Linked DNA regions of Homo sapiens: all the other regions are reported to be linked to region 4. Evidence: microRNA targets listed by miRTarBase, many of them from high-throughput screens and not tested one by one. Region 4 holds a microRNA gene; each other region holds the end of a gene's coding sequence.

Region 1 (5,075 bases), not on the chromosome of region 4:
TTCCTGTAATGCCTGAGTAAAGATACGTTATTTTTTTCTAAAGAACTCTAACACGTGCAATATTAATGGGGGCCATATGCTACTTCTCTCTCAGCAGCCTCAATCACACTGATAACATTGAAAAAATGCAAGCTTGTTTCAAAGGAATAATTTTGACCTCATTTCTGTGAACAGGAATTTATATTTTACCAGGCAATCATTTCTTAGTAATATAGTTCCATTTATTTTCTTAGTGAGTTAGGAGGAAAAACAGTATGTAAAAAGATTTGTAACTATACATTTCAAAGTATTTAAACAATAGTAACAGGGTTTAAATGTATCAAGAGTTCTGGTTACTTTTATAGTCATCGATATTATGTCACCAAGTAAGTAGGGAACAGAAATGTGTTACAAAGATAAATGAAGTAGAAATATAGAAAGAAAAATAGTAATTTTAAAGCAACTTTAAAATAAGCAAACATGTCTTTATAAAAAGGAATTGAGTAGGAGGAACAGAGATCAACAAAATTATTGTTTTTTTTTCTACAATACCTTATGTTTTATTACATGCTGAAAAGATCGCCACAACTTAAATTTCCTCTTTTTTTCTCCTCCTTAGGCCAAGTTCACAGATGACTGCAAGTTCAGGGAGCGTTTTCAAGAAAATAGCTATAATACCTATGCCTCAGCAATACATAGAACTGAAAAAACAGGGCGGGAGTGGTATGTGGCCCTGAATAAAAGAGGAAAAGCCAAACGAGGGTGCAGCCCCCGGGTTAAACCCCAGCATATCTCTACCCATTTTCTGCCAAGATTCAAGCAGTCGGAGCAGCCAGAACTTTCTTTCACGGTTACTGTTCCTGAAAAGAAAAAGCCACCTAGCCCTATCAAGCCAAAGATTCCCCTTTCTGCACCTCGGAAAAATACCAACTCAGTGAAATACAGACTCAAGTTTCGCTTTGGATAATATTCCTCTTGGCCTTGTGAGAAACCATTCTTTCCCCTCAGGAGTTTCTATAGGTGTCTTCAGAGTTCTGAAGAAAAATTACTGGACACAGCTTCAGCTATACTTACACTGTATTGAAGTCACGTCATTTGTTTCAATGTGACTGAAACAAAATGTTTTTTGATAGGAAGGAAACTGGAATTCTTTGTACTAATACAGGGAGCACACTCCTTCAGTTCAGCAAGACATAAAGCCTTTTGCTTTATGCTTGAGGGATATTTAGAACTTTGTATTTTCGGAAAGTTAAATAACAGGGACTACGTATTTTTCTGACTTTTACAGATTAACCTGAAAGAACATACATGATACATTTTTATTTTTGGTTTCCAAAGAATATTTTGATGCAGATAAAATATTTTGTTAACTTTTGTTTTTTTTTGTTTGTTTTCTTAAAAGTACCTCTGCATTGAGCATATTTTCTTACTTTTATTATTTTAATTAATATGACATAAGCAATCATTTTATGCTGTTTATGAATTATAAATGTGTTTATAGCTCATTTGTAATATGGAAATCTTTTACATTTTTCCTATTCACTGCACTTTTTTATTGTTTTTATTTCTAGCCATACCTCAGATAATATGTTTAGTTTTACATTTTAAAATGTTTAAATTCTCTTTCACAGCACCAAAGGCTCAGCTTGGATTTGTGTGTATGTGTATGTCAATTCATGACATTATGTGGAATCCTAAACCTTTGGTGGCTGGGATATGATGGGTTAGAAGCAAGGAGAAAATATAAGGACTTTTTGATGGAATTAAATGTGGGAGGTAAGGAAAAGGATTTAGAGGTAAAAGTACACTAAGTTTGCAACATTTATTGAGATCTAAGTCTGTCTTGCCTTCATTTCTCTTTTTATCTCCCCCTTGCCCTCATTCTTGAACAGCTGGAGGAATACATTTTATTCTGTCCATGAAGCATACACTATGAAATTCAAGTGCTTAAAAATACTTCTATGACTCTCTGCTATCCCACTGTATAGATCCACAGGGAGCAAACACTTAGAAATGATAGAGAACTGAAGGAGATCAATGGTTTAACAGTTATCCATGCCAAGTCCCATTGTCAGAAATATTCTTATTACTCAGTCAAACACTCTTTGAGCTTCCCTTCCTAAAGGTAACCAATCCAGTGAATAGATGTGCCCTTTTATAAGGAAACTTCTGATGTTTATTAAAAAAACTGGCCTTTTGATAGAGGTAACTTAATTTGGGAATTTGTTGTGTTGAAATGGCATTTAATTTCAACCTAAATACTGACTGCTGGACATAAATCACAGAAAATTTAACTTAAGAAAATTTACAAAATTTATTCTCAGGTAATCATTTTAATAAAGTTCTGCAAAATACACGTTTATCTTACATTCAGAAATGTGGCAAAAAAGGCATAGCTAAAGGCTAAACATATGGCTTTAGTAGTAACAAAAGGGTTCATAGAAACTTCATGGTTTGCATTTAAACATGTTTAAAGTGTACTTATAAACTATTTTTTTCTTAAAGCAAACTATGATTTATTTTGGTGCACAAATACAAAGTGGAAACTTACCAAAATTGAACTAGCTACCATATAAGCAGATTGCTTTAATTTGATGGGAAAATAGTACACACATATATATAACAAATAATATATTAAAAAACCCATCCATCAACTAAAACATTATATGTATACATCAGTATAGTGTTTTATTATAAAGCCAATTATCTGATTAAGCATTCTTTCCACTGAATGCATAATGTTTAAATAGCATAAAATGAAATGCTACAAAAATTGAACTAATTTATACTTTAAAGTATTTCTGGGTTAAATGAAACAATGAAATTTTTTAGTATGTTCAACTCTCATCCAAATGGCATATGACCCTGTTTACACAGCCTAAAGCTAAAAATATTACTCTAGTTTATTCTAATCTATTGTTAAGTATTGTGCACTGTATACCAAGTTCTTAGGGCACATGAAAAATTTTAGCTGCCAAACAGGAACTAGTAAACATATGTTCCTAATAAGTGAAGGGAAAGATAATAATGATGGTCAACAATAAGCCACGTCAATGCATAAGTTGTATAGGCTAAATGTTGCTTGTAGGCTACATTAAACTCAAATGTAATAGTTTATCTTATACTCCTGGTTTGATTTGATTAGCATATTAACGTGAAAGTAGGATAGCTACTAAATATATATTATGCAAGTCAGGAATCATTAATTTCAAAATTTAAAGCCATGCTAAAATTAAAAAGAAAATATTAAATTACACAATTACACTTGTCTTTACTGGCCATACAAAATGATTTTTTTTTTTTTTTTGAGACAGAGTCTTGCTCTGTCACCAGGCTGGAGTGCAGTGGCATGATCTCGGCTCACTGCAACCTCCAACTCCCTGGTTTAAGGGATTCTCCTGCCTCAGCCTCCCAAGTAGCTGGGATTACAGACTCATGCCACCACGCCAGCTAATTTTTGTATTTTTAGTAGAGACGGGGTTTCACCATGTTGGTCAGGATGGTCTCAATCCTGGCCTCTTGATAGTCCTGACCTCATGATCTGCCCACCTCGGCCTCCCCAAAGTGCTGGGATTACAGGTACAATGATGTATAATTAATGCTTAGTGAAGCATAAAGTTACCTACATCAATTAATTAAATGAACTTATGTACAGAAAACATGTATAAATATAAGTCTATACTAATGCTTACAACTTTCTAAGAGGGTTCTTGCTTATGTAGCTTTTTATTATTTTAAGTAACTAGAACCACCAAATATCAAATAAAATTATTTGGTTATGGTTATGTTCATCTAAACACAACAATAACTTTTATATTAATATTTAGGAGTCTATTTTGTCTATAGGTGACAAACATCTCCAGACTAACATGTCAGTTTTATCAATTATATTATGTTTAATTATTTAAGATTTCTTTATGTGGAACATCTATAGAGATAAATAGAAATTTTCAATAAGATGTAGTAACACTGTGATTTATCTTTCAAGAGTCTCTCTTCACTTCCTTCTAAAGAGACTAATTTGAGAGTACAGGTGCATATTAATTTTCTTGGTTCTTTCAGCTGAATTATATTGGTCCAGAAGTTCAAAATCATGTGACAATAATAAGGGATACTGACAGAAGTTATTTCCAAGTTTGTGTATATATTATAAAAATTACATATATAAAACTAAGGCTTTTATTTCTGTTATTTTTAAGCTTTTATTTCTTGTAGCTAAAAATAAAACATCATAAATCTGGTAGGTAAATTTCTTATTAAATCAATCTTGAAATAGAAAATGTAATAACTTTCTTACCATTAACATTTTTTACCCTTCCATAGAAGGGAGGGAATAAATCATGACTTATCCCATTTTCAATAACAAAACGAAACTATGGCACTAACCAAAAACTTGCATTCTGGCATAATTTTTACAGTTGCAGAGAATTGTTTCTGGGCTCATTAAAAAAAGTAGTATTGCAGACATTGCTGCAATGGGAAGCAGACAATAACTTCTTAAAGGAATTCTACACCTCCTTTAAGATTTACTTAATTGCTACATCTAAATTCTGATAATTTAAAATCCATTTTAGGTGATAAAATTTTTTAAAAGTTTTGAAGGAAACCTCTGGATAAATGGACAAGGCCTAATTTTTTTTTGTAGTCAATCCAACTGTACTGGCCAATTTTTGAAATAAGATTATATGATTAGGTATTAGCAGAGACAAAGAGTTACCTCCTCCATCTTACTCTGCCCTATTTGAAAGTCTCAGGGGAGAAAAGGGAACAAGATGCTGATCCAACCTGAGTGGAGTCAGGTGAGGCATCTTTACATCTAAGAATTTTTTTTTAAATTTTATTATTATTATACTTCAAGTTCTAGGGTACATGTCCACAATGCACATGTCTGTCACACATGCACACATGTGCCATGCTGGTGTGCTGCACCCACCAACCTGTCATCCAGCATTAGGTATATCTCCTAATGCTATCCCTCCCCTCTCCACCCACCCCACAGCAGGCCCCGGTATGTGATGTTCCCCTTCGTGTGTCCATGTGTTCTTATTGTTCAATTCCCACCTATGAGTGAGAATATGTGGTGTTTGGTTTTTGGT
Region 2 (5,075 bases), not on the chromosome of region 4:
ACCTGGCTAATTTTTTTGTATTTTTAGTAGAGATGGGGTTTCACCATGTTGGCCAGGCTGGTCTTGAACTCCTGACCTCAGGTGATCTGCCCGCCTTGGCCTCCCAAAGTGCTGGGATTACAGGTGTGAGCCACTGCGCCCAGCCTTACTCACTTTCTGAAACAGATTAGAGCCTCCCTCCACGATGACTGTTCCCTCTGCCCAGGAGGCCGTTCTTGGCCAACTGCTTGTCTCACCCCTCACCCCCTTCAGGTCTGTTCAGACATCCAGTTCCCAGAGAGGCTCCCCCAACCATTGTAAGCGACAGCCAGCCGTTTCTGCACACTCACCTTGCCTGCCTATCTTCCTGTTATATTTTTCACGGCAGAGCTCCCCACCCCTCCACCTGTGTCTATATAAGGTCTGTCCTCACTCAAACGTCAGGCTCCAGGAAGCCAGGACTCTGTCTTGCTCCTGGCTGTCGTACAGCAGATTCTCAACGAACCTTGCTTGAATGGCAGCATGGGCAACCAGGACACTTTGCCCTCGAGCCCTGCTGGTGGCATCCACAGCTCTCCATCTTCCTGCAAACACTCCGGGCCAGCGCCTCCCCAGACGCACCCCTGAACAGAACACCTCCACCCGGGGCGATGAGGTTTCTTTGAAGAGAGCTTTCATGTGCCCCAACCTTGGATTCCCCCCATTTTTAGGGCACGTAGGCCTTTCATACTTTACTGACAGCCTGGGTGTAACCAGTAGGAGTGACTATTATTGTGGGAGGTACTTAAACATCTTGGTCAAATAGGGCTTTTCCCATTGTGGGGGTGTGGGGGCACCCAATAAATAGAGCTTCATCCAGATGCTTCTATGAGTACACGGCAGTTCCTAACGAGCTCCGCGTCCTCAAATCCCAGCTTCCCTTTTGGTCTCTTTCGCATCTTTCCTCATAATCTCCATTCACTTTCACAAAACCTCAACCTGGACCCCTAAGGACACTTCCGTTTCCCCAAGTCTGAATTATTCCACCTGAAGCTCTCCAACCTGTATTATTAATAGAATTCTTGGCTGGGCGTGGTGGCTCACGCCTGTCATCCCAGCACTTTGGGAGGCTGAGGTGGGCGGATCACGAGGTCAAGAGATCAGAGATCGAGGCCATCCTGGCCAACATGGTGAAACTCCATCTCTACTAAAAAAAATACAAAAATATTAGCTGGGCGTGGTGGCGCACCCCTGTAGTCCCAGCTACTTGGGAGGCTGAGGCAGGAGAATCGCTTGAACCCGGGAGGCAGAGGTTGCAGTGAGCTGAGATCATGATACTGCACTCCAGCCTAGGAGACAGAGCGAGACTCCGTCTCAAAAAAAAAAAAAAAAAATTCTCAGGAGAAACTGTTTAAGACGCAGATAACTATGTACAACCCCGAAGAGATCCTGAATCAGCAGGTAGAGCCACGAAATGGTACCTTGAACAGATTCCAAGTGACTGATGTAGTGGCCACCCTGGTTCAGGAGTTCCTGGGGAGGGGCAGGGGAGGGCCAGAAGAAAACTATATTTTTAGCTAAAAGACCTCAGCTTCTGGCTTGGCATGGTGGCTTACACCTGTAATCCCAACGCTTTGGGAGGCCGAGGTGGGCAGATCACTTGAGCCCAGGAGGTAGAGGCTGCAGTGGGCTGAGACTGTGCCACTGCACTCCCACCTGGGTGACAGAGCGAAACTCCATCTCAAAAAAAAAAAAAAAAAAAGACCTTGGCTTCTGTGTGAGGGAATAGGAAGGGAGGGAAAGGTTTTCATTTTCCAGCTGTTTATAAAAAAATAAACTGGTACTTTGAGGTAATTTGCGTCACCAGATACCTATTCTAGAAACCCCAAGATCTGTGGGACATCCTTCCACATCAGTGGAAAGCCATTCGCAAAGAGGACAAACGGCTTCTTCTCTCATGGATCATTAACAATTCTCAAAGCTTGAACCCGTATCTGATAACCAGTCACATCTGGCTGGGGGCACTGTTTGAGGAAAGGGGAACCCTTTCCTCAAATTTAATAGTCCATGCAATCCTCACCTACAAGAGACTTAACAGGACACTTAATTTGCTAAACTTTATTTTATACATACACGTTTACATTTACTAGTCATGGTGTCAACTTGTTAACACAACGAAGCCCTAATGGACCCGTTTTGAAATTAGAAGCTGGACAGTTACAGGCTTTGGTCTCTTCAAGAATCCAATTCACCCCTGGGTTTCGCTTGGCACACACCCCAGGAGAACGTCGATGCACACAGCTGTGTAGCTGCAAACGGAAACCACTCTCTTTTCTCTCGTATTTTTCAGTCAGACTCACTCAGGATTTTGAAATGAATCATCACGAGAAATTTGTTTTAAAGTTGAATCACTGAGAACATCTAACAACTGTTCACATTCTTTATCACAAAAACTGAAGTCGGAAAAGACGCCCTGAAAACTTGCAAGGGCTAATACTCTATGATAGAATATTACTACTGTTCACCATGTTAATACATTTACTTACTACCATACACCTGAACAGTCACGGCAGAACAAGAGCATGTGAATGACGAAAGGAAACTTGCTTTCAGGGTGTCAGATTATAGAACATGCACAGGAATTTCTTCCACTTCTAACCTCGCTCATCAGTCACATTTACAAGAAACTCAATTTTAAGCAAAGAGATGCCTGAAATAACTAAGACGTGTACAAAAACAAGTTAACCTATGAACACAAGGTAATATTCTGATAGTCTTCGATGTGACTTCCAACATATCTGAGTAGTCACTTTTCAGTTTTTTAAACACGTGAGAAAAATAGATTTGGATTACATCTTTGTGGACGGCTACGATACAGTTTGGAAACCATTATCTCAGGGACCCTGCTCTCTCCTCTACACATGCGCACGCAAACACACACACACACACACACAATGACACATGGTGGTCTGGTCTAATATAGTGTGTCTGAATTCAGAGGGCAGACATTAACAGCCAAGTTTTGTTTTTTTGAGAGAGAGTCTCACTCTGCTGCCCAGGCTGGAGTGCCGTGGCACAATCTCGGCTCATTGCAACCTCTGCCTCCTGGATTCAAGCAATTCATCTGCCTCAGCCTCCTGAGTAGCTGGGATTACAGGCGCGCGCCACCACGCCCAGCTAATTTTTGTAGAGATGGGGTTTCACCATGTTGGTCAAGCTGGTCTTAAACGCCTGACCTCGTGATCGACCTGCCTCAGCCTCCCAAAGTGCTGGGATTACAGGCGTGAGCCACCGTGCCCGGCCAACAGCCAAGTTTTAAAAGATTTTTTTCCCCTCTTACTATAATGTGAGTAGTGACCTTCTGCTGCAAAGATGGTGACAGTTTGGTGCAAAGATGGTGACAGTTGGGTAGATGGATGGAATTAGAGCTGGGGACCTAGGAATGCCTGCGTCCTTCCCTATAATCACCCCCCTTCCCCACAGGATTCCTGAGAGGGCTCATCCCAAATGGGAATCAAAGTGCCATTTTTACTAACAGACTCTAAAACTCAAAGACTTTGAGGTCTAGGCAGACATTCTTTTTCCCTAAAACTAACTCTTGGGACCTCCTGGCTAGATAACTGGAGGATGGAAGCTGGAGACTGAAGGAGCAATAAAACCAGGTTTGCAGCGAAGGTCCTGGCTTAACTTACCCCGCTGGTTACACGAGAGGAAGGCGGGAGGAAGAATATGGCAGGGCCACCCAGCTCTTCCAAATGCCAGGGCCTGCAGAGGTCGCTGACCATTCCGAGGAGGGAGCAAGGCGTGGGGGAGAAAAGCTGAACATGGATGAGTGTAACAGTGACCCTGCTCATGCATAAAGGGGAATGAATGTTCTAGAATTTTCCCAATCCTCTTACCAACTCTCCTGCCTCCGAAGAGAAGGTGAGTAGAGAAGGCGGTGAAACGGCAGGCCTGGTAGAGAAAAGGGCATAGAGATCCACCTCCCTTCCCCAACTCCCTCCCACCCAAGACCTCACCTATCGTTTACCTCAGGGCCAGATCTCTATCAACAGGGGCCCTAAGAGAGTCCAAAGTCTTATTCAGTGACAAGAGAGAACTTGGTTGACTTGGTACTTCTTCCTTGTTCTTTCAACTCCTCAGTATGGGTGGTCCCCCAGATCAAACCTTTCTGGATTCTGCAAATAAATGAGAGAACAGATCAAGAAGGGAAGCAGAGAGGTGTCATTAGGAAATGCATTACTTCCAAGAAATTTCTGGGTCCCTGAACATTTCTATTCCCCAGCCAGGTCTCTAGAAAACTTCACCCTTAAAGCCACATACCCTGCAAACACCATAACTCCAAAGTATTAATATTTTTTTTGGGGGGAGGGGGGAACAGGGTTTCACTCTATCGCCCAGGCTGGAGTGCAGCAGTGTGATCTTGGCTCCCTGCAACCTCCACCTCCCAGGTTCAGGGAGGGTAAGAGCCCAGACCGCCCTTCCAGGAGCCCCTGAAGGCCGATGCTGGAGACATCTGGTGGGCAGATGTCTGGAGGCCAATCCCAGGCCTTGGCCTCCCCAGTAGCTGGGATTACAGGCACAAACCACCATGCCCAGCTAATTTTTGTATTTTTAGTAGAGATGGGGTTTCACCATGTTGGCCAGGCTGGTCTCGAACTCCTGACCTCAGGTGATCTGTCTGCCTTGGCCTCCCAAATCATTAAATTCTTTTTTTTTTTTTTGGAGACAAGAGTCTCACTCTCGTCACCCAGGCTGGAGGGCAGTGGCACAATCTAGGCTCACTGCAACCTCCACCTCCCGGGTTCAAGAGATTCTCCTGCCTCAGCCTCCCGAGTAGCTGGGATTACAGGTATGTGGCACCACACCCGGCTAATTTTTTGTATTTTTAGTAGAGACGGGGTTTCACCATGTTGGCCAGGCTGGTCTTGAACTCCTGACCTCAGGCGATCTGCCCACCTTGGCTTCCCAAAGTGCTGGGATTACAGGCATGAGCCACCAAGCCTGGGCCCAAACCATTAAATTCTCATCAAGGAAGATGGGTCAGATGGAGTGGCAAATGACCACAGTGACACTCATTGTGGGTTTCCTCTGCCACCTCCTGCCCACCAGATGTC
Region 3 (5,075 bases), not on the chromosome of region 4:
CACTTGAGCCCAGCCAGGCATTTGAGACTAGCTTGGGTAACATGGCAAGACTCCATCTCTACAAAAAATTACAAAATTAGCCAGGTGCCATAATGCATGCCTCCCAGCTACTGGGGAGGCTGAGGCGGGAGGATCCCTTGGGCCCAGGAATTTCAGGCAGTAGTGAGCCGAGATCATGCCACTGCACTCCATCCTGGGTGACAGAGCAAGACTCTGTCTCAAAAAAAAAAAAAGTAAAGAAAACATATATATATATATATAGAGAGAGAGAGAGAGAGAGAGAGAGAGAGAGAGAGAGAAAGAGAGAGAGAGAGAAACCTGGAAACCTGGCCAGGCACAGTGGCTCACACCTGTAATTCCAGCACTTTGGGAGGCCAAGGTGGGCAGATCACCTGAGGTCAGGAGTTCGAGACCAGCCTGGCCAACATGGTGAAACCCCGCCTCTACTAAAAATACAAAAATTAGCTGGACGTGGTGGTACATGTCTGCAATCCCAGCTACTCAGGAGGCTGAGGCAGGAGAATGGCTTGAACCTGGGAAGTGGAGGTTGCAGTGAGCCGAGATCGCGCCATTGCACTCCCACCTGGGCGACAGAGCAAGACTCCGTCTCAAAAAAAACATAAAAACTCAGTTGAAGCTGGTTGAGGTGGTCCATGCCTGTAGTCGCAGCTACCCAGGAGGCTGAGGCAGAAGGATCACTTGAGCCCAGGAATTTAAGACCAGCATAGCAAGACTCTTGTCTCTAAAAACAAAATTTTTTGATTAACAAAAGAAAAACTCAGTTGAAAGTGGTTGCCTTTAGAGAAGGAGAAATGGGGGTGGGATCAGGAGAATGCTGCCTTTCATAGAACTGACTTTTTAAACTCGTAACTTCTACGAATTGAGGTAAACTCCTTACTTTTTTAAAAAAATAAGTAAAAAAAAGTAAAGTTGTAAAAGAAAAGCTCCATCAACTATCCATCCCCCAAAAACTTTTTTATGCCTATTTAATCTACATTCTTCAAAATTTTTTTAACCTGCCTAGCTTTAATGGTATTATTTACATTAACCAACTGAAAAACTGTTTTCAGAACCCCATTTTTAAAAGCATTTAAAAGAATTCTGCACCAACATGTGGAGACACATATAATCCAACCCCTGTATACTTCATTAGGGCTTATTTGTTTAAACAGTTTCATTGGCATTCATACTTGGAACAACAGAGGGTTATTATAAAAAAAAAAAAACATAGTTGTGTTTATCATGCCAGGACTGGGTAACTTTATTCAAGACTTTGACAAAATGATCCCCAAAGTAATATAAATGTAGACACTTTAAAAAGTCCAGATGTGAAATTTCAAGAAAACTTTGAATTCAGTCCAAAGTCAGTATTAAGTCAAAAGTTGAACCAATTCTACAAATCATAAATACTATTTTCCTTCTTAAGTTCATATATTTTCTGAGATAGATTACCAACTTAGTTTTCTTTGATATTGGTATTTGGAATAATTTTAACATGATTTAACATCTTTAAGTTCTAAATCTATACTTATCCTGAATATCTTATTATAGTTAAAAATATAAATCCAGAACTGACAACTCTTCCTTACAGAAGAATTCCAATAATAAATGTAGAAGGATTGAGAGAAATAGAAAATCACCATTAGAACACCACAGTAGTAACTGCCACAAGCAAGATCTGCCAATGGATAGTAAAATGAGCAAAAGTTTAAGCAGAAACGGGACATTTGCATAGTCTCCGGGTATCTCCAGCAAATATTCAATAATTACAAGGAAAACACAGTAAGTTTACAGTAGCGAATCCTAGCAGACACCACCTTAGCATAGTGATCAAGGTTAACAACACCAGAAATACATTACAACATCAGGTATCCCCTGTTATGATACACTGTCACAGACTGGAAGACAGGACGTAGGCATGATAGCTAAATGCAAGGCTGGGTCTTGGAACAGTAAAAGGACATTAGTGAAAAGACTAAAATCTCTACTTTTTAAACTTTCTACTTTAGTTAGTATTATATCAAGGTTAATTTCTTAATTTTGACAAATGTTCTATTGTTACGTAAGATGTTAACATAAGGGCAAGGTGGGTGCAGAGTATACAAGAACTCTACTACTTTTACAACTCTTCTGTAAGTCTAAAATTATCTCAAAAGCTTAAAAAATAACTGTTAGAAAACAAACATGTATGTGCATAACATGTGTACATATATATAAATCAAGACTTCATGGAAATTGGCATCTTGGGCACTCAGTCAGTAAAAGAATAGTGTTCTCTTCTGAATTATTCATTGTCTTACTGGTAGCTTAGCTTTAAGGTCCTCCCCCTTCTAGACTTTTAATTTCAAGTATAAATTTCTAATTTTCATAGAAAAGCCTTTTTTAAACATTCCTATATTAGGCCAAAAATAAAATCCTAGAATAAAATTATCACCATATTATCTTATAAAATCACTCATCCCAATCATAAGACCCAGCCAGTATTTTTACTACATTTCCTCTCCTCATCTGTTTGTATTGGTTTGGTTTGGTTTATGAGTGGGGACAGCTAATAGATTTAGTATTTACTCATAGGCCTGACAGTCTAGGGGAAAAAAAATTATCACTTGGGTATCTTATGAAGAAACAGCTATTTTTCCAAGAACCAATATTGTGTACTCACCTCAGACATAAAAAGTTATTTACCTAAGTCTCTTCTATCTAACAGCATAGAGTTACCCAAACAAGGCCAATAAAGACCCTTTCAATATCCTTTTCTTAAATTTGGCTCTAAAATGACTGTTAATAATGGTAATAAATGTCTTTTTATTAAACAGACAATTTTATCTTATGCAATTTAGGGAAATAAACATAAAATCTACCTTTAAATGAAGAAAATAATAATTTCCCACTCTAACTATGGCTGATTCATTCCCTGAGCATGAATCCCATTTTACCCTCATTGTTTTTAACTATAAACTGAGCTGAAATCTGCTCACAGGTGAAACTAGTATTTTAGATGGAGAATGATATTACCAAGTAATCATATTTATTACTTTTTGTAGTAATTATTTCTACTCACTGTGGCATTTAATGTTTCATCTGTAACTCTCTATCACAATGCCCTCTATAGAAGCAGCAATAGTGAAAACATAACTACACTTTGGGGAAAAAAAAAAAAAACAGGAAAAAACAGATAACTTTTAAGTGGATCTTTATCCAAATACAATAAAAAAGCAAAAAAGAAAAGTGTCCGTAAACATTTTCATTTTATGTCAATGCCATTTCCAAATTTACCTTCCACTACTACCATGAACAGCAGAAGTGGTAAAAAAAAAAAAAAAAAAAAAAGAAGAAAAAAACTCTAACCTAATGATCTATAGAAAAAGGGAGACAATTTACTCACTACACATTGCAGTATATTCAAGTGGTGAAAAGATATAAATTTTTTCAGAACTGCCATACTATCTGGCTGTCAATATAGTCTCTTGAATAATTATATTAAACATATTACTACAAAATGTACCAAGAAGTAGAGAATAATACTATATTTGTAAACTGCAAATAACAAAACAAAACAGAAGTCCAAGAAGGCTAAAGTCTAAGCTATAATTACACATGAAGTATATGTTGAAAGCAGTCACAATGTACAAAAATGTGACAAGATATCCAGATGTTTAAAAAAACACATCCTGTTTGTCTCAGATTATATCCAGTTTCATCTGGTAGGTTTCTGATAAGCCTGTTGTGTGAAGTGTGTTTCCCTCCTGCTGGTAAGAAGCAGCTTGTAGATATCCATAAATTTTTTAAGGAGTGAGTCTACTTGGCAATATTGGTAACTCCATAGTTTCCTATTACATTCATTCGTCTGAAAACTGAAAACAACTCATGACTAAAATATTCTTCCATTCCTTTGCCAGTTTTTCAAGTATAAAATCAAAGGAAAGCTGGAATGTATTGCTTCTTGTCATCAACAGGCATTTCAAAAAGAGGGTAATTAACCAAATCAAGTGTTCTTTGGTCAAGTTAGTAACAGGCTTCCACTTTGTTCTAAATCCTTTCATAATCCTTTTTTTTCTAATTTTTCCAGTATGGCCTGAATCTTACAAACAGCCTCTTTTCTGGCCTGCCGTACAGAGTCCTGGCCCCCAGTTTCAACTGAATCCAGTTCCAAAAGTTCCTTGGTTAGCATTTCTTCCAGAAGCCAGTATGCTTTGTCTGTCTTTTTTCCTACAAATTCTTCTACTTCTTGTTCAAGATACTGGACCTTCTCCAGCACATGTATGATTTTTTTAATACTCGGAGGAGTACTTTCATCTGAAGGTACACATTCTTCAGGAAGACTGCTACTTTGATCTTGATTGTTGGGATGGTCACTGGTGGCATTACCATACAGCTGAGGCTCAGCACTATACTGGACTTGGGAATCCAAAAGATCTGAATCATCATTGTTCACTGTCCCCGAGGATTCGTACTGATGGACACTGCAAGGAAAGTTGTGCCGGTTCATGCTTTGATCTGATTGGCTATAGGGGTATGAAGAATCCTTGGAGTGGGAGAGCAAAAAGAGGAAAAGAGCTGTTTTAATGGGAATGCATCAACATCAAATTTGTTAGCCCACATCTTTCACTTGACCAGAAAGGTACATGAAAAGATTCCCTAACAATAAAATTGGACCCCTCTCCTTAATCATTTGCAAAAAAACACAGTCCTAAGAAGATAAAAGGGAGTGCCCTGTCAGACAAAAGGCACAGAATTTTTGAGTTATAATGGCTGGAACCTGCCCTGTGGCAGGTCCATCACCATGAGCACCTCATAGTCCATCCTGTGACCTAATTAATAAGAATTAGTTTTTCCCCTAAAAGGTTAAAAACCTCAAGCAAGGTCTTGAAAAGGAACACAGCCACAAGTGATAATGTTCAAGTCTGTGGTTTAAATACAAGCTCATGCTACAGATATTTCACATTGGTTTTGTCTTCTGTTCATAGATTATTTGAAGTAGTAAAATGCATCTTTGCATTTAACGTTTAGAAGAATTACAACAAACAGAAAATGTGTATCTTTCTGTCTTTTAACAAAAACGATGTGAATCTAAA
Region 4 (5,075 bases):
AGAAACCAAATAAGAACTTGATAAAATGGGATGGGATGAACTAGATGAGGGTAGAATTAAAACAGGACACTGTGAATTATGATTGTGTGATCCATCACCCATTTGCTTTGCCAGGAAGCTGAAAAGTTTTTACTGAGCCTCGCTGAAGGTAGGAGGTTGGATGGGGCAACTTTTTTTTTTTAATCCTTTGAGCCCAACCTGAAATGAAAACAAATTATAATCAAAGAAGTTCCACACCCACATGTTTTCATTTTTTTACTTTTTGTTCCACATATATATTTCCATATATGGATTCCACTCCCACATTTTCACTTGGGAGCCAAGAATTTTAATGATGGAAGTTATTAGAAATGAAACAGAGAAAAAGGTTATATACAGAATTGAAAATAATTTCTGTTTAAGTCACCTGTAACTATTCACTGCCTGACATAGATTTCTTGTGTTTAAGTTAAGAACAGTTCCCTGTCCTTTGGGTATGTCATTTCGTGTGAGCATAGACGTAGTGCAACCATTATTCAGGCTTAGAGAGCTTCTGATAATTGTTCACAGCACAAACAAACAAAAACACAAAAGACCTAACACATCTCTGGAGGCTAAAAGGTAACATGAAGTACTTAAGGATGGGCCAATAAAGTACACATTATAGAACCAGAAAACCCCATATCATTGTTTTCAAGCATATTGGTCTGAAATATATACATATATAATTATTTTGTTTCTTTTCTTTTTCTTTCCTTCTTTCTTTCTTTCTTTCTTTCTTTCTTTCTCTTTCTTTCTTTTTCTTTCTTTCTTTCTTTTGTCTCGCTCTCTCTCTTTCTTTCTTTCTTTTTTTTTTTTTTTAGACAGAGTCTTGCTCTGTCACCCAGGCTGGAGTGCAGTGGCGCAATCTTGGCTCACTGCAACCTTCGCCTCCCGGATTCAAGTGATTCTCCTGCCTCAGACTCCTGAGTAGCTGGGATTACAGGCATGCGCCATCACACCTGGCTCATTTTTGTGTTTTTAGTAGAGACAAAGTTTCTCCTTGTTGGCGAGGCTGGTCTTGAACTCCTGACCTCAGGTGATCCACCCACCTCGGCCTCCCAAAGTGCTGGGATTATAGGCGTGAGCCACCATGCCCAGCCAATTTTGTTTCTTTTAATATTGAATAGAGTATGACTCAAGCCCCTTCGTATTTATTTATTTTTATAATTTCAACTTTCATTTTTAATTTAGGGGGTATATATGCAGGTTTGTTACATGGGTCTATTGTGTGACACCGAAGTTTGGGGTGTGAATGATCCCACCACCCAGATAGTGAGCATAGTACCCAACTGGTAGTTTTTCAGTCAAACTACCAATTTTGGTTATGATTTGTTTTCATTTCAGGTTGGGCTCAAAGGATTAAATAAATAACAATTTTAAAAAATTTTAAAAATTTAAAAAAAGTTGTCCAATTCAACCTCCTACCTTCAGCGAGACTCAGTTAAAGCTCTTCAGCTTCTTGGCATAGCAAATGGGGGATGGATCACACGATCACAATTCATAGCATCCTGTTTTAATTCTACACCCATCCAAAGAGTTTTTTCCTCTCTCTCCGCTCTAGTAGTCTCTGGTGTCTATTGTGTTCCTCTTTGTGTCCATGTGTACCCAGTGTTTAGCTCCCACTTACAAGTGAGGGCATGCAGTATTTGGTTTTCTGCTCCCATGTTAATTCCTTTAGAATAATGGCCTCCAGTCTCATCCATGTTGCTACAAAAGACATGACTTCATTCTTTTTTATGTTAAGCCTGTATATAATTGTGGAAAGTAAAAGCCCTCTATAATTCTCTATAATTGTGGAAAGTGAAAGGTCTTTACCATAAACATTTTTAAACAACTTTATCAAGATATAATTCACATAACATACAACTTTCCCATTTAAAGTATATAATTCAATGGTTTTGGTCTATAACATTATTATTTAAAAAAAGTCTTCTCAGATTGTTACATTTTAAAAAGTTTTTAAATTATGATTTAATTTGCTATTTTAATCATTGTTAAGTGCATGGTTCTGTGGCATTTGTCATATTCTCAATGTCGTACTACCATCACCACTATTTTCAAAACATTTCATTACCCCAGAAAGAGTATTTTAAGAGAAACTATCCCTCTTGATTCAGAAAATGTAAGCCACAATTTTAAAAAATTAAAGTTCCCAAACTAGAAAGAAATATTTTAATTTTTTTTCTGTGAAGGATAGTAACTCTTATAGGGAAAAGGAAAGAGGAGTTTGCTGTGACCACTAGGAGGTCACAGTGGAATGTCTGCATACTTCCACCAATGTGACTACACGGCTGCCCTTTCCACCAATGTCACTTACACAGCTGCTCATCCTTTCAGATTCAGCACAAGCATGTTCATTACGTTGTATTGTGCTCATTAAAGTATGTGTGCCCTAGCATTTATAATCATGTGTTCATTCACATGATCATAAGTGGACACATGACCATAAATGCTAAAGCACACTTACTTCTACAACATACTGAGCTCACCTCACAGGTATAAACAAAAACATGCACACAAATGTGTATTGAGAATAGACAACTAAACACAGAGGAAGCTTATGTGTACTGAGAGACAAGTGAAGAAGGAATATGCCAACTAGAAAGAAGAATGTTTGGAACCTAGAGGGAAAGTAAATTTTATGGTTTTAAATGTATCCACAGGTTTTTTATATTCCTCCCCTCAAGAAGTAGACTCCAATTCTCTTCCTTTTAAATATGGGCTGGTCTTACAAACTTCTTTCTCAAGATTAAAATGCAGAGTAAATAAGATTGCTGACTTCTGAGACTAAGTTTGGAAATGTCACTCAACTTCTGCTGAGGTTCTGGTTCATATTTAGAACCTGGCCTCCATGCTGTGAGGAAATCCAGTCTACATGCAAAGACTATGCAGGAATGTTCTGGCCAAAGGCTCCCCATAAAGTTCTAGCTGACAGCCAGTCATGACCCATCACCAGACATGTGAATGATGATGCTATCAAACCAACTCCAGCCACAGGATCTGACTAAAACCTCATGAGAGGCACTGAGCAACAATCACCTAGCTTATCCTTCTCAAGTCCCAGAATCATGAGAGATGACAATAATAAATGATGGTCACTTTTATACCATTAAATTTGGGGTAATTTGTTATGCAGCAGAAGGTAACCAGGACAGTAAATGAAGTGATAACATCAGGATAGGTAAAGTGAGTTAGATGGGGAGTCAGCAGCAAAGGTTAGGAATAAGGGTAACTTCCCCATATTTTCTTTTCTTAAAATAGAAAGAAGAAAGGAAGGTTTTTAGATTATTGTTTATTTATCTTGCTTTTTTAGTATAATTGATTATCAAAGATTTCAAATGAAAATGAACTTAAAAGTCTGTATAAATAGTACAGATCATGAAGATTTTAAGTTTCTCTATTTCTCATTTGTTGATTAGGGCATATTTCCTAGCTTTGGAATGAAATTTTTGTTTGGCATTTTAATTAATAAACACATCTCATAAACACATAACTTGTGTCATAACTAACTTTAATTATTTTGTTCATTAAACAATATTTGTTAGCATTTATTAAGTGCTGGGTATTCTGCTAGGGATATAATAGCTAATAAGATATACTCCTCACAGTCAAGGAATTTATAAGAAAATCTTATGGGAGAGACAAACAAGTAAACCAGCAATTATAGTAGCAAGACCTACGTATGGATAGAAGTACAAAATCTATGGCACCATATAGGAACATCTCAACAGCTCTTGAGAAAATGTTGAGGAGGTGTCAGGGAAGGATCATTAGAGGGACTCATGGCTATGCTGACACCTCAAGGGAAGAAACTGAGTTCAACCAGTGAAGCTCTAGAGGTAGTTGAGGAGGAAGACTAACAGTATGGGCAGGAGCCATAGACTGTGCAGAAACCTGGAAGCAAGGATACATGTAACAAATTCTGGGAACTGAAAGTGTCTCATTATGGCTGGAGAAGAGATCACAAGGCAGAGGCTAAAGAGATACAATACAAGGGGGTACCTCTGTGAGGTTAATAATTTTGAACTTTATCCTGAGAGCGTTGGGAAGCCATTGAATGCTTTAACCAAGAGAGAGACATGATGAAATTTGACTGTGATGTAAAAAACATATTCGAAAGAGGCAAGACTAGATTCTGGCAGACCAATCAGAACACTCTTGCAGCAATTCAGGTGACAGAAGACAAAGGTAGTAGCTTGAAGTTGTGTAGGAAGAATCACCCTATGAGGAGGGAACAGAGCTATTGTTCACTCACAGCCCAGAGAGCCTCAGCTCTGCATGAAAGCCTTTTGGACATGGATAAAACAAATTGCAAGTTGGTAATCTAATTTCAGGAGGGACAGATCCTGGATGTGTATTTCAGAGTGCTAAAGTCTATCCAGAAACTGATACCCATGTGGCATTCTGGATCGAATGCCATATGTGTTGTAAAAGCAGACAGGTGCTTTGATAAGCTAGCAACAGATTTTAACCACAAAAATTCTTTTTTAATGAGAAATCTGTGCCACACCAGTAACTTATACGAAAACAAAGATTGGTGTGTATGTATCTGCGTGTCAAATGAATATTCATGCCTATGATTCACTTTAACATTTTCACAATCTGACCTTGAATGAAGAGGTCAGGGCACCACTCATTAAAAAATGATAAGGCTTTCCATATGAGCTTACATGGTATTGCAAATTGGAATTTTTTCAGCCTCTTTTGAGAATGATTCCCTAAATTAGGATAGTGTATGAGGTGTTAACAATGTCCGTGTGCTTTGAATGAAATCAACACCTATAATATACAGTAACATTTTTAAAGCATTACATATGTGTAAATATGTTCATGTGTATGTGACGTATATGCATTAAATAATTATGTGGAGGATACATATGTATATTTGTAGGTGTGTAAATGTGGGGAATGAGCAAACTGAGCCACTCAAGACCTGAGTCTGCTTTAGTGCATTCACATAAATTCAATGAGAAATTAAAGTAATTCTTTGCCAAAAGAGTGGCTGATATGATAGGACAACTGCTTTCTTTTGCTACTACGAGAACAAATTAACA
Region 5 (5,071 bases), not on the chromosome of region 4:
GAAAAAAGAAATTTTAAAAATATATAGAAAAAGGGTCACAGACTGGGGGTCTTGTTACTTCCTCCTTTTCCTACTTGCTTCTGTTTTTGTTTTGTTTTGTTTTGTTTTGTTTTTGAGACAGGGTCTCGTTCTGTTGCCTAGGCTGGAGTGCAGTGGCATGATCATGGCTCACAGTAGCCTCGACCCCCTGGGCTCAATCGATCTTCCCGCCTCAGCCTGCCATAGTGCTGGTATTATAGGTGTGAACCACCGTGCCTGGCCCTGGCCCTGCCCGCCTTGGGTTTTGATTATTAATTCTCTCTCCTCTCCCTATCAGAAGAATTTTGACTTAGTGAGCTATATTTTGATGCTCCTGCCAACTGGGAGTTCACTATTGGAGGCTACCATTTAGAAGGAGATTGTGGATAAATAAGAGGTGTATGGGGGGTGGTGCCAGCAGCATGGTGGGTTTTTTGTTTTTTTGTTTTCTTTTGAGACGGAGTTTCGCTTTTGTCACCCAGGCTGGAGTGCAATCGCGTGATCTTGGCTCACTGCAACCTCCGCTTTCCGGGTTCAAAAGATTCTCTTGCCTCAGACTCCCGAGTAGCTGGGATTACTGGCGCCCACCACCTCACCCCGCTAATTTTTGTATTTTTAGTAGGGTTTTCCCATGTTGGCCAGGCTGGTCTTGAACTCCTGACCTCAGGTGATCCACATGCCTCGGCCTCCCAAAGTGCTGGGATTACAGGCATGAGCCACCGTGCCCGGCCGAGCATGGCGATTTTTAGAGGAGGTCACTCTTAAGTCAGTACACAAGGTCTGAGCTTTCCTTCCCGTTACAGTCCCGAGCCTTCCTGAAGGACTATTACCGGGACCACAACATCGAGCTCTCCAAGCTGCTGTATAAGATGGGCCAGACACTTCCCACTTGGCTACGAGAGGACCTCCAGAACACCAGGTAGCCGTGGCCACCACAGCCAGACTGAACGTTTGTGAAAGCTGGGACATCCCACCACACGCTGAGCCAGACCTGCAGAGTGGGAAGCTGGACCAGGGCAGCTGCGCACTTATGAGCAATACTCTGTGGAGGTCTGGTGGGGCTGGGGGAGCACCCAGGCGGATCTGCAAGCACCTCGGAGCACCCACCGCTGGGTCTGCGGCCTAAGGGACCTCCCTCGCCAGCAGAGGTCCATTCCGTTCCCAGCTGCTCCTGGGGAGGCCGCTTCCTGGTAGGAGGGAGTCCACGAGACTCTTTTCTGTCCCTCACTGTGTTCCGCCGACTGTCCCCTCTCGTCACCCATCACTCCCTGCTTCCGCAGGGCGCCCCTCAGTATTCGCTGCCATATGTCCCTGTCCTCCAGGCTGTAGGGGAGGAGAGCCTGGCCGGGGGAGACAGACTGGACATTTCCCTGTTTCGAGCCAGGCTCTTCCAAGGGGCCAGCTGGGTCCCCGGAGTCAGTCCTAGGCTGGATGGGAGGGTGGCCCCCTCAAGAGGACTCCCAGCCTCCACATCTGGTTCCTACCTTCACATCTCACCCTCCCGTTCTGGGGAAGAATTTCTGGTTCCTACAGTATCCACTCCATCCTCAAGGCTTCCCGCAGGGCCTTGGGGCACTGCCTTGCCATCGGGCCCAGTTCTCCGGGCCCCACCTGCACCCCTTTCTTCCCCCTGGGATATGATGTGTGGTGTTTCCTGTGGTAAAAGACTGAGGCAGGCCAGGGGTCTGCCAGTAACATGTTCCCATGTACAGACACGGTCCCCACACCCTCCCAGCCTCAGGCCCAGGCAGACATGGGCGAGCTGGTGAGACTGCCAGCCACGGCTTTGCTTAGCCACCTGTGGCCGAGGGCTCTCAGAGACCCCCTTAACCTCCCAAATACTAAGAAGCTAAAATATTTTAATATTTTGTTTTTTTTTTTCTTGGTGCCAGAGTTTATACCCTGGGTGCTGGGGTCGCACTGTGTTATATATATATATATATATATATAATGTGTATATATATATATTCTATTTTTTTTGGTTGGGTTCGTTTTTAATTCAGTCCTACAAAATGGTGGTAAGCCCCAGTCTCAGGGGTCACCCTGTCTTAGAGCTAGAGATGAGGTGGCAGGGAGGGAGGCTGTGTCCTCAGTGGCCTGGGGCTGAGCAGACCTTAGGAAGGGGCCCTCCCCAGTGCCGTGGCTGCTCTGGGGCTACCCCAGGTGAACAGAGGTGGTGAGATGCGCAGGGAAGACCAGCTCTCTCCAGGACATCGGGCTGCGTGAAGTCCAGTGACCCTGAGGGGATTTTGGCCAAAGGAAACAGCCAGGGCTGGGCTAGGAGAGCTGGGGTCAAAAGCTGCCCCACCCACTCTCCCTCACATGGTGCTAGGCTGGGAGCTGCCCTGAGAGCTGGGATGCCCACCAAGGCCCACAGAACTGTCTCCAGGCCCTTGTAGACAGTGGGATCTCTGGGCTGATTTCTGGTTGGGGTCTGCTCCTACCCCACCCCATTTAACAATGTGAAGTGACTGAGGCTGGGGTGCCTCTCCCTGGCCCCCTCCAACTGCCAAATTCTGCTTCCCTCTGAACCCCAGGAAATACTTTCTGGAGAGGCTTGTCTTGTTCAGAAGACTCTAGCATCTTGGGGCTGGAAGGTCCTTTGACGGGTATGAAACAGGTCCAGAAAGGGGAGGTGGCCTGCTTGGCCGACGTCATGGAGCCAGCTGGGAGCAGGGCTGAGCGTTGAACCCGAGGCTCCCGGTTCCAAGTCCCATCGTGCTCCTCTTCCAATGCCACACTGCCTCTGAGCCCATCCTTGGGACCCTACTCTGTGCCAGGTTCCTGTCCCTTCCTCCGTCACAGCATGGTCATTCCAGGATATGGGGACAAACCACTCCTTCCCAGCCAGGGTGCCTTTGAGCCTTCTCATTCCGAGGTCTGCGTTTGCATCCCTGTCGTGTTCTCCCTCGAGGGGTCCTTCCCCAGCCTGTGGGGGCCTGGGTCTGTTCTGAGCTGATTCCCTTTTCTCCAGTTCTCTGCTGGGATGAAGAAAGTTGGACACTCAGTGGGACCAGCTGCAGGTGGTTTCACTGTGTACACAGCAGTGTCCCCATCATGCCTCTCAATGGGGCCTGCAAGCCTGGGAACTTGGGCATCGTTGGGCCAGCAGGATGAGCAGCAAAGGGTCTGAGGACAGGGTGGCATGTCTGCTTGTGTGCTCATGAAGACATGCCCACGCCATGGAGCCAGGGGCTTATAGAGAGGGGCAGTGACTTCCAGAGTCCCATCCGTCAGTGAGGGGACTGGGCTGCGGGATGGGTGAGGATCTTACAGCTCCCAGGTTCGGAAATCTACCCTCTAGGCCTGGAGGCCTCTCTCGCAGAGCATGGAAGGCAGGAGAGGTGGGCTGGCCTAGGGCAGGAGCTCCACTTCTCTCTGCCTCTGGCTATGGGAAGGAGCAGGCGGTTGGAAATCCTGTGACAGCAGAGATCTTCTGGATTTTTGCCTGGACCCTTCTGCAAGCCTGGAGACTGGACCTGCCACATGTTCCAAGTCTGTCTGCCTAGGTCACTGCTGCCACTTCTCCTCCCACTAACAGACCTTTCTTGAAGACCCACTAGGTCCAGACACTGCCGGGACTTGCAGGTATGGGGGGTAGAAGGAGAGGCAGATAAGCTGCCTGGGGGGCTGTTAGCTAATGGGTACAAGGACACCCCCTCCCGAGAAGAGAAGCCACAGATGAGTGGGCCAGCGAGGCCAGTCTTCAATGTCCACTAATTCACTCTAAGCATTTGGCCAAAAAAAGGAGAGAGAAATAACTGAAATTGTTCAGGTGGCTCCATCGTCTATTCTGTGGTCCCCTCCATGAGCCTTTGCCCCAGGGTGGGTGCAGGTGCGAGTGTCACCTGCAGCTGCCTCAGTCATTCAGAGTTCCAGAGCCTTCTGTGGTGGAGCATCCTGCTGCTTGGAGGATGAGTCTGAAGTTTAAAAATGGGCCTTTTCTGAGCCCCCCTGATGAGCAGTCAGTGCTTCTGGGCCCAGCTAAGGAAGCCATCTGTTCCCAGCAGAGGAGAGCTGCTGCGCTGACCTGCAGAGGTTGGTGGTCCCAGCACAGAGCTGTGCCCATGGGCTTGTTAGTGGGAAAAGCAAATACAACAATGTTTTACCAAACATTTAATTATGAATGCCCACTCCCCAGCATCTAGATCTAAAATTATTAACATTTTGCCACATTCTTTTTCTCTCTCTGTGTATGTATATGTTTTCTCTGTCCTAATTTAAAAGTACATTGCAAACATCATGAAACTTGATCCCTGAAAGCTTCAGCCTGCATCTCCTAAGAGTTAGGGCATTGTCCTACACATTGGCCCAGTATCACAGCCAAGACGAGAAGTCATTTCCCAGCGATGTCTGCTATCTAATCTGTATTCAAATCCCCCCAATTGTCTCCCAGGTAACTTATGTGTCTGGTTTTGGAATCAGCATCCAGTCACGGTGCACACATTGCATTTTCTAACTATGTTTTTAAAACCTCTTTGAATGCTGAAAGGTCTTCCCTCAGCTCACTTTGAGTTTTTAAATGACATTGTTTTTGAGGCCCTAGGCCTGCTGTCTTTTTGAAGCCCCACATTCTGAATTTGTCAGATTGTTTGCTCATGGTGTCGCATAACCACTTCTTCTATCCCCTGTACTTTCAAGGATAATTTAGGCTACATGAGATTTTGCCTTTTGTGCTGACTTGACAGCTTCACTTCTGCCTAAGATGCGCCTCCACTGTCACCTGTACCAAGTGCCAAAACAGCAGAGGGGCCAGTTAGAGCAAGAGCTCTGGGGGGGCCGGAAAGTCTCCCTGGAGAAGGCCGTAATATCTGGGCCTTGGAAGGAAGGACACAGGGCTCTGGAAGGAGGAGGCTGCATGCCTGAAGGCTGGGCCTTCGACCCTGGGGATGGGCCACAGGGCACCAAACACATCATATGTCTCTCTCTTTCTATTTTGGGGTCCCAGGGTTTTCATTTCCTGGAGACCCGTGGTCTGTGTGCACTGGAGCAGAGCCAGGCTCTCAGTTGCAGCAGGGAAAAGCCTACATGGGGAACTGCCTCCCGCAAGCTG
Region 6 (5,071 bases), not on the chromosome of region 4:
AGAAGCCTCCCTACAGCTACATCGCGCTCATCGCCATGGCGATCCAGGACGCGCCCGAGCAGAGGGTCACGCTCAACGGCATCTACCAGTTCATCATGGACCGCTTCCCCTTCTACCACGACAACCGGCAGGGCTGGCAGAACAGCATCCGCCACAACCTCTCGCTCAACGACTGCTTCGTCAAGGTGCCCCGCGAGAAAGGGCGGCCGGGCAAGGGCAGCTACTGGACGCTGGACCCCCGCTGCCTGGACATGTTTGAGAACGGCAACTACCGGCGCCGGAAGAGGAAGCCCAAGCCGGGCCCCGGGGCCCCGGAGGCCAAGAGGCCCCGCGCCGAGACGCACCAGCGCAGCGCGGAGGCGCAGCCGGAGGCGGGGAGCGGGGCAGGGGGCTCGGGCCCCGCAATCTCCCGCCTGCAGGCAGCGCCCGCGGGCCCCTCGCCCCTCCTGGACGGCCCCTCTCCGCCGGCGCCCCTCCACTGGCCGGGGACCGCGTCCCCGAACGAGGACGCTGGTGACGCTGCCCAGGGCGCAGCGGCCGTGGCGGTCGGCCAGGCAGCGCGCACAGGGGACGGCCCGGGGTCCCCTCTGCGCCCCGCCTCCCGCAGCTCTCCGAAGAGCTCCGACAAGTCCAAGAGCTTCAGCATAGACAGCATCCTGGCGGGAAAGCAGGGCCAGAAGCCGCCTTCAGGGGACGAACTCCTAGGGGGTGCCAAGCCTGGGCCCGGCGGCCGTCTGGGTGCCTCGCTCCTGGCCGCCTCCTCCAGCCTCCGTCCGCCTTTCAACGCTTCCCTGATGCTCGACCCGCATGTCCAGGGCGGCTTTTACCAGCTCGGGATCCCCTTCCTCTCTTATTTCCCCCTGCAGGTTCCCGACACGGTACTCCACTTCCAGTAAAGCAAACAATGGCACGGTTCTTCTCCCGGCCCAGCCTGAGCCTCCGCTGAGCGAAAGGCCACAGCTCCCACCGGCGGAGGATTTTAAAATGATCTTTGCCTGGGTCGGCCTGTGGGTTCAGGGAAGTGTTACCAACCATTGCGCGCAGGTGGGCGCGCTCGCCTGCCTTCTCCGAAGCAAACTTTTCCCAGCAACTGGGAGCAGCTACGGAGACTTAAAAGATCCCCGCGGGGTCGTGGGCACCGCACGTGGGCCCTGCAGGGACCTCCACCGCGGGAGATTCCTTGACGTTTGACCTGTCTAATGGAGTGTGGTCTTCAGCCGCCCACCGCAGGTCCTGCGAGTCCCGGGCATGCAAGGGCCCGCAGACCACCCAAGGCAGGCCTTACAGGTGCAGTTGAGGTCCTTTCGACCGGGGACCCCCGTATGACCGTCGCCTGCTTCGCTGTTGCCGTGTGGCTCAGGCCTTGGTTTTGAGCCCATCTGGGTGGTGGGTGGTCACAGCTGGGTTTGTTCCTGACTTGAAGTTGTGGAGGTGCCGGGGGTGACCCCGGGTTTTCAGGTTTTCTGAGAGATGTAGGGCCCGATGAGGATTTATGACCAATGTTCAGCTATAGAAGCTGATAACCACCCAGAGCAATAACACTTTTATTTTAAACAGAGACTTTTTCTCTTAATTTCTTTCTGGGTAGTAAAAAGAACATGTTTCATTCTTTGCATAAATACTTGACTCTAAGCATTGACCTTTGAAAACGCTTGTATTAACAATTTTTATTAAGAAAGTGCACTCTATATAACATCTTCTTGCATTACGATAGCTCATTAGCCAATACACATGCAGCTATGTAAGCCACAACAGCAGACGTCCTATCCTTTTGCTTTTGTTTTTAAGGGATCAAAATATTTCAAGGGATACCATGAGGAAGGGTGTGAGGGGAAGGGGATATGCCTTGGACAATGTCAGAGTTTTGATTTCCATGTTTTTTCAAGATCCAGGCTTGGTGGTCGCTATATTTTTCAGAAACAGATAATGAAAGACTACATTTAATTTAAAAAGTTGGGTGAAACAACCAAAAGCAGATGCAGAGAGAGAGAGGGATGAATGCGGGGGAAGAATAAGGGGACGTGCTGGTGTCCGCTGGAAGGGGCCTCTCTGGGCCCCAGAGGACCTGAGGTTTGATGGCAGGAATCTCCCAGACACTCCTGGCCCCCGCACCCCCTGCAGCCGCCCGCTCTTCCCTCCCAGCCCTGCCAGGCAGGCCTGGAGGCTGATACTAAATCAAAACCTTAAAGAGGTGACTGGCAGTCTGGGGAGGGGAGAAGAGGTCTGCAACGAAAATCTAATTAAGAACATTGAGATGTTCACAACCAAGTTCAGCTTGCAGCTTCCGGGGAAATGCAACCGACCTCTATGCCATCTCTAGCTGGGTAATCTTCGAGGCCCTGAAATGCAATTTTCTGAACCTCTAAGTCACTTTTATTTTATGTCATGTGATAAAGACACAAGTAGTCACGCACTATTGGAAATAGGTTGGGAGGGAGGTCTTTAAGATCGCTTTTAAAATAGTTTCCAGGACTTGTCTAAAAATGATGACAAACTTTGAATCCAGAGGGCCTGTTGGTCAATGTGTTGGAAAGGACATTTCAGGCCGGCAGAGTAATTGGATAATTCACAGGCATAGAGGTGACTTTTGGAAAATTCATTCTCCTATCCATGCTGAACCAGGCTTCCACGACTGGGTTCTACCCAGGCCAGTGGGAAGACTCTGGGAAACTTCAGGCCAGCCTTGATTGGAAGAACTTCCAGGAGGAGCCATTGCTGAGATCCAGGCTCACTGTGATTCACTGAAAATGTAGCGAAAGGGCTGTCACTGGATATTTTGCTATCCCAAACTCTCAGCCTCTGTGAATAAAGTTGTTTTTTCATTAACCTCTCAGTGACTGGTTCAGTGGATTACTGGAGGGAAATAAACAAACAGTGTAATAAGAAAGAGGAGACTGGGATTATATCTGGGAGTCGTGTTAGCATCTCAGGAGGCTCTGGCTTCTGAGGGGTAAACACACAGATGGAGGGGAAGGAGTGGAGAGGATGCCGGGCCCAGGAAGCTGCCTCCATATCAGAAAGCACGATGAGTTAATTCTGCCGTATTGAATCGGTTTTTAATCTTTCCTTTTTCTTTTTTGTGTTTGTATGTTATCTTGGGAGGTTTTGTTAATTTGTGATGGCTATGTTTTGAAGAAGCAAATAATTTGATACTGCAGTTTTAAAAGGGTCGTATTTTAAAGTTACTATTCCAAAAAGTATTGTACGAATGTTACTTTTATGACACAGAAAAAATGCAGATGTATCCACTTTGTGTGTTTATACATGCATAAAGAGAAATTCTATTTAATCCCAACTTTTGTCTGGTTTAGAAAAGCTAAGACAAGTGGATACTGAGGTCGTTTTTATGTAATCTATATAATTGCATGTGTATTCCTTCCTCCTGAACCAAAAAGAGGAGGTTTGGGTCTTACCAATCCGAATAGCTGTTCTATTGATCCATATTTAATCGTTGGCTCAAAATTATGGCTCAATAAGGTCAATAGTTTCTGCTCTTAATTAAAACAAAATCTCAGCTATAATTAGGGTGAGCCAGAAGCAAGCTTATCATTGTACTCTTAGGCAATCTGAAGGAATACCTCTCTGCTCTCATCTAAACAAAGGGAACAGATCTGTCTTCTGTAAATGATCTTTGGTTCAAGCCCTGATTACACACACACACAAACAAATACCCACACACATATGAGTGCACTGATCATAATGAGGATATGGCAGGCACATGTTTGATAACAAAGTGTGTATACATATGTACACGTTTATATATATGTATATACATATATATACATGAATGTGTAGGGGTGTGTGTGTGTATTTGTTCTGTGTACATGAATGCTCATAAATGTATCTTTTTTGAATATACCTGAGACTCAGATCAAGTACTGAGTCCTTTCACTTTAACCCAAGTATTGATACTATTTGAAAGATTTTGTTTTTCTATATAGTTTTTAAAAATAGATAATAATTTCTATATAGCTTTAATAGTTTTGTTTCTCTATGTAGTATGAACCAGGGATAACTTTATTGTTCTGTGTTAGTATAGTGAAACTGACAGATTTTATTTAAACATCGCGGAAGACACCCGCTTTGAGAACTTTTCCCTCCGTTCACAAGGACAGAGAACTTTACAAAGGACTCTTGCTCTGCCTGGCCTCATCTAGTTGCTGGCTTTTCTAGAAACAAACGGCCTCCTGGGCCTCCAGTGAACCATAAGAGTTTTGAGAACCTGAATAGGACCTTCTTAGCCATTTTCAGATTTAATTGTGCCCGTTTGAATGGTGGTCTTCACCATTTCACTCAAAGTGGTGAGTGTATGCCCGTGTGTATGTTAAAGAATTAGCCACATATAATTATTGTTACAGCTGAAAGCCAGAGCCAGCCTGCCCAGACCCTGGCAGGTTAATGTTAACATCACAAAGGTAGGTGACGTTTCCAGTAACCAGCTGCACCCAGGAGTGAGAAAATAAGGGGAGAGCCATGATTTTGTGCACTTCCTGGCTTCATGGTGGATGGAGTCTTGTTTCCATGAAATAAAGGTTGTTTCATAGAATGAAAAACATAAATGATAAAAAGCAAAGTTTGTCCATTAAAAATAAAAAGCGTGAGTTTGTGGAAAAGTAAGATTCTTTTGACTCACATTTAAAGCAGTTTTTTAAATACACCTGAATAGCCACATGACAAGCTCTCTCCTCTGCTGGTCCTTATCCAGAGGCCCCAGTGCTGAGTTCTTCAGGGCTAGGCAGGGGCCACAGGTGTTTACAGTGACCTGGAGTGGGGCCTGATCACTGGAGCGGGCAGTGGTGGGGCTTGGGCTGAATTGGGGTGAGGGAAGTTCTGTCCCTTCAGATGGCATCCAAATGCCAATTGCACTAGGCAAATCAAATGTGTGGCTTATAGGCCAGATGTAGAGTCAAGCTCAGGCTCTCCACCTTGGGGTGCAAATGAAATCTGGGGGGGTCACAGTCAACTCAGGTATCTTTACAGTAGCAGTGGGGGTGGAGGGAAGCAATGGAACAAAGATTTGGTCCCAACCTGTTTTTTCCATTAGGTACAAGAATCAGCGTCCTGGCAGGAA

Evidence for each region. Region 4 holds the annotated microRNA hsa-miR-4643 (GACACAUGACCAUAAAUGCUAA, at 2,456-2,477, shown strand). A microRNA usually pairs through its seed, bases 2 to 8, with sites in the 3' UTR of a target mRNA and lowers its output. Matches are read on the target gene's strand: a 7mer-m8 pairs with bases 2 to 8, a 7mer-A1 pairs with bases 2 to 7 and ends in A, and an 8mer does both.
Region 1: miRTarBase lists FGF5 as a target of hsa-miR-4643. Seed matches in the 3' UTR shown: 7mer-A1 at 1,640-1,646 and 7mer-m8 at 5,014-5,020.
Region 2: miRTarBase lists PNMA8A as a target of hsa-miR-4643. Seed matches in the 3' UTR shown: 7mer-m8 at 2,916-2,922 and 8mer at 2,875-2,882.
Region 3: the mRNA of BAG4 is a reported target of hsa-miR-4643. Seed matches in the 3' UTR shown: 8mer at 3,593-3,600 and 7mer-A1 at 3,386-3,392.
Region 5: the mRNA of NDST1 is a reported target of hsa-miR-4643. Seed matches in the 3' UTR shown: 7mer-A1 at 1,969-1,975.
Region 6: the mRNA of FOXL1 is a reported target of hsa-miR-4643. Seed matches in the 3' UTR shown: 8mer at 3,365-3,372 and 7mer-A1 at 3,788-3,794.

The regions. Positions count from the first base shown.
Region 1 is chr4:80,285,727-80,290,801 of GRCh38, forward strand. FGF5 (fibroblast growth factor 5) reads left to right here. Exons shown (of 3, transcript NM_004464.4): 3 at 599-5,075. The coding sequence ends at 946. Among named protein-coding and RNA genes, the nearest start is that of FGF5, 22 kb to the left of the region's middle.
Region 2 is chr19:46,464,442-46,469,516 of GRCh38, forward strand. It overlaps PNMA8A (PNMA family member 8A), which reads right to left. Exons shown (of 3, transcript NM_018215.4): 3 at 2,062-4,136. The coding sequence ends at 4,120. Among named protein-coding and RNA genes, the nearest start is that of PNMA8A, 4.6 kb to the right of the region's middle.
Region 3 is chr8:38,209,458-38,214,532 of GRCh38, reverse strand. BAG4 (BAG cochaperone 4) reads right to left here. Exons shown (of 5, transcript NM_004874.4): 5 at 1,232-4,525. The coding sequence ends at 4,040. Among named protein-coding and RNA genes, the nearest start is that of DDHD2, 20 kb to the left of the region's middle. RefSeq lists a silencer at 3,528-3,822.
Region 4 is chr6:91,519,254-91,524,328 of GRCh38, forward strand. It overlaps MIR4643 (microRNA 4643), which reads left to right and starts at 2,407; the gene lies at 2,407-2,484.
Region 5 is chr5:150,552,392-150,557,462 of GRCh38, forward strand. It overlaps NDST1 (N-deacetylase and N-sulfotransferase 1), which reads left to right. Exons shown (of 15, transcript NM_001543.5): 15 at 822-5,071. The coding sequence ends at 941. Among named protein-coding and RNA genes, the nearest start is that of NDST1, 47 kb to the left of the region's middle. RefSeq lists an enhancer at 4,717-4,886.
Region 6 is chr16:86,578,866-86,583,936 of GRCh38, forward strand. FOXL1 (forkhead box L1) reads left to right here. Exons shown (of 1, transcript NM_005250.3): 1 at 1-4,613. The coding sequence ends at 896. Among named protein-coding and RNA genes, the nearest start is that of FOXL1, 2.9 kb to the left of the region's middle. RefSeq lists an enhancer at 544-1,165.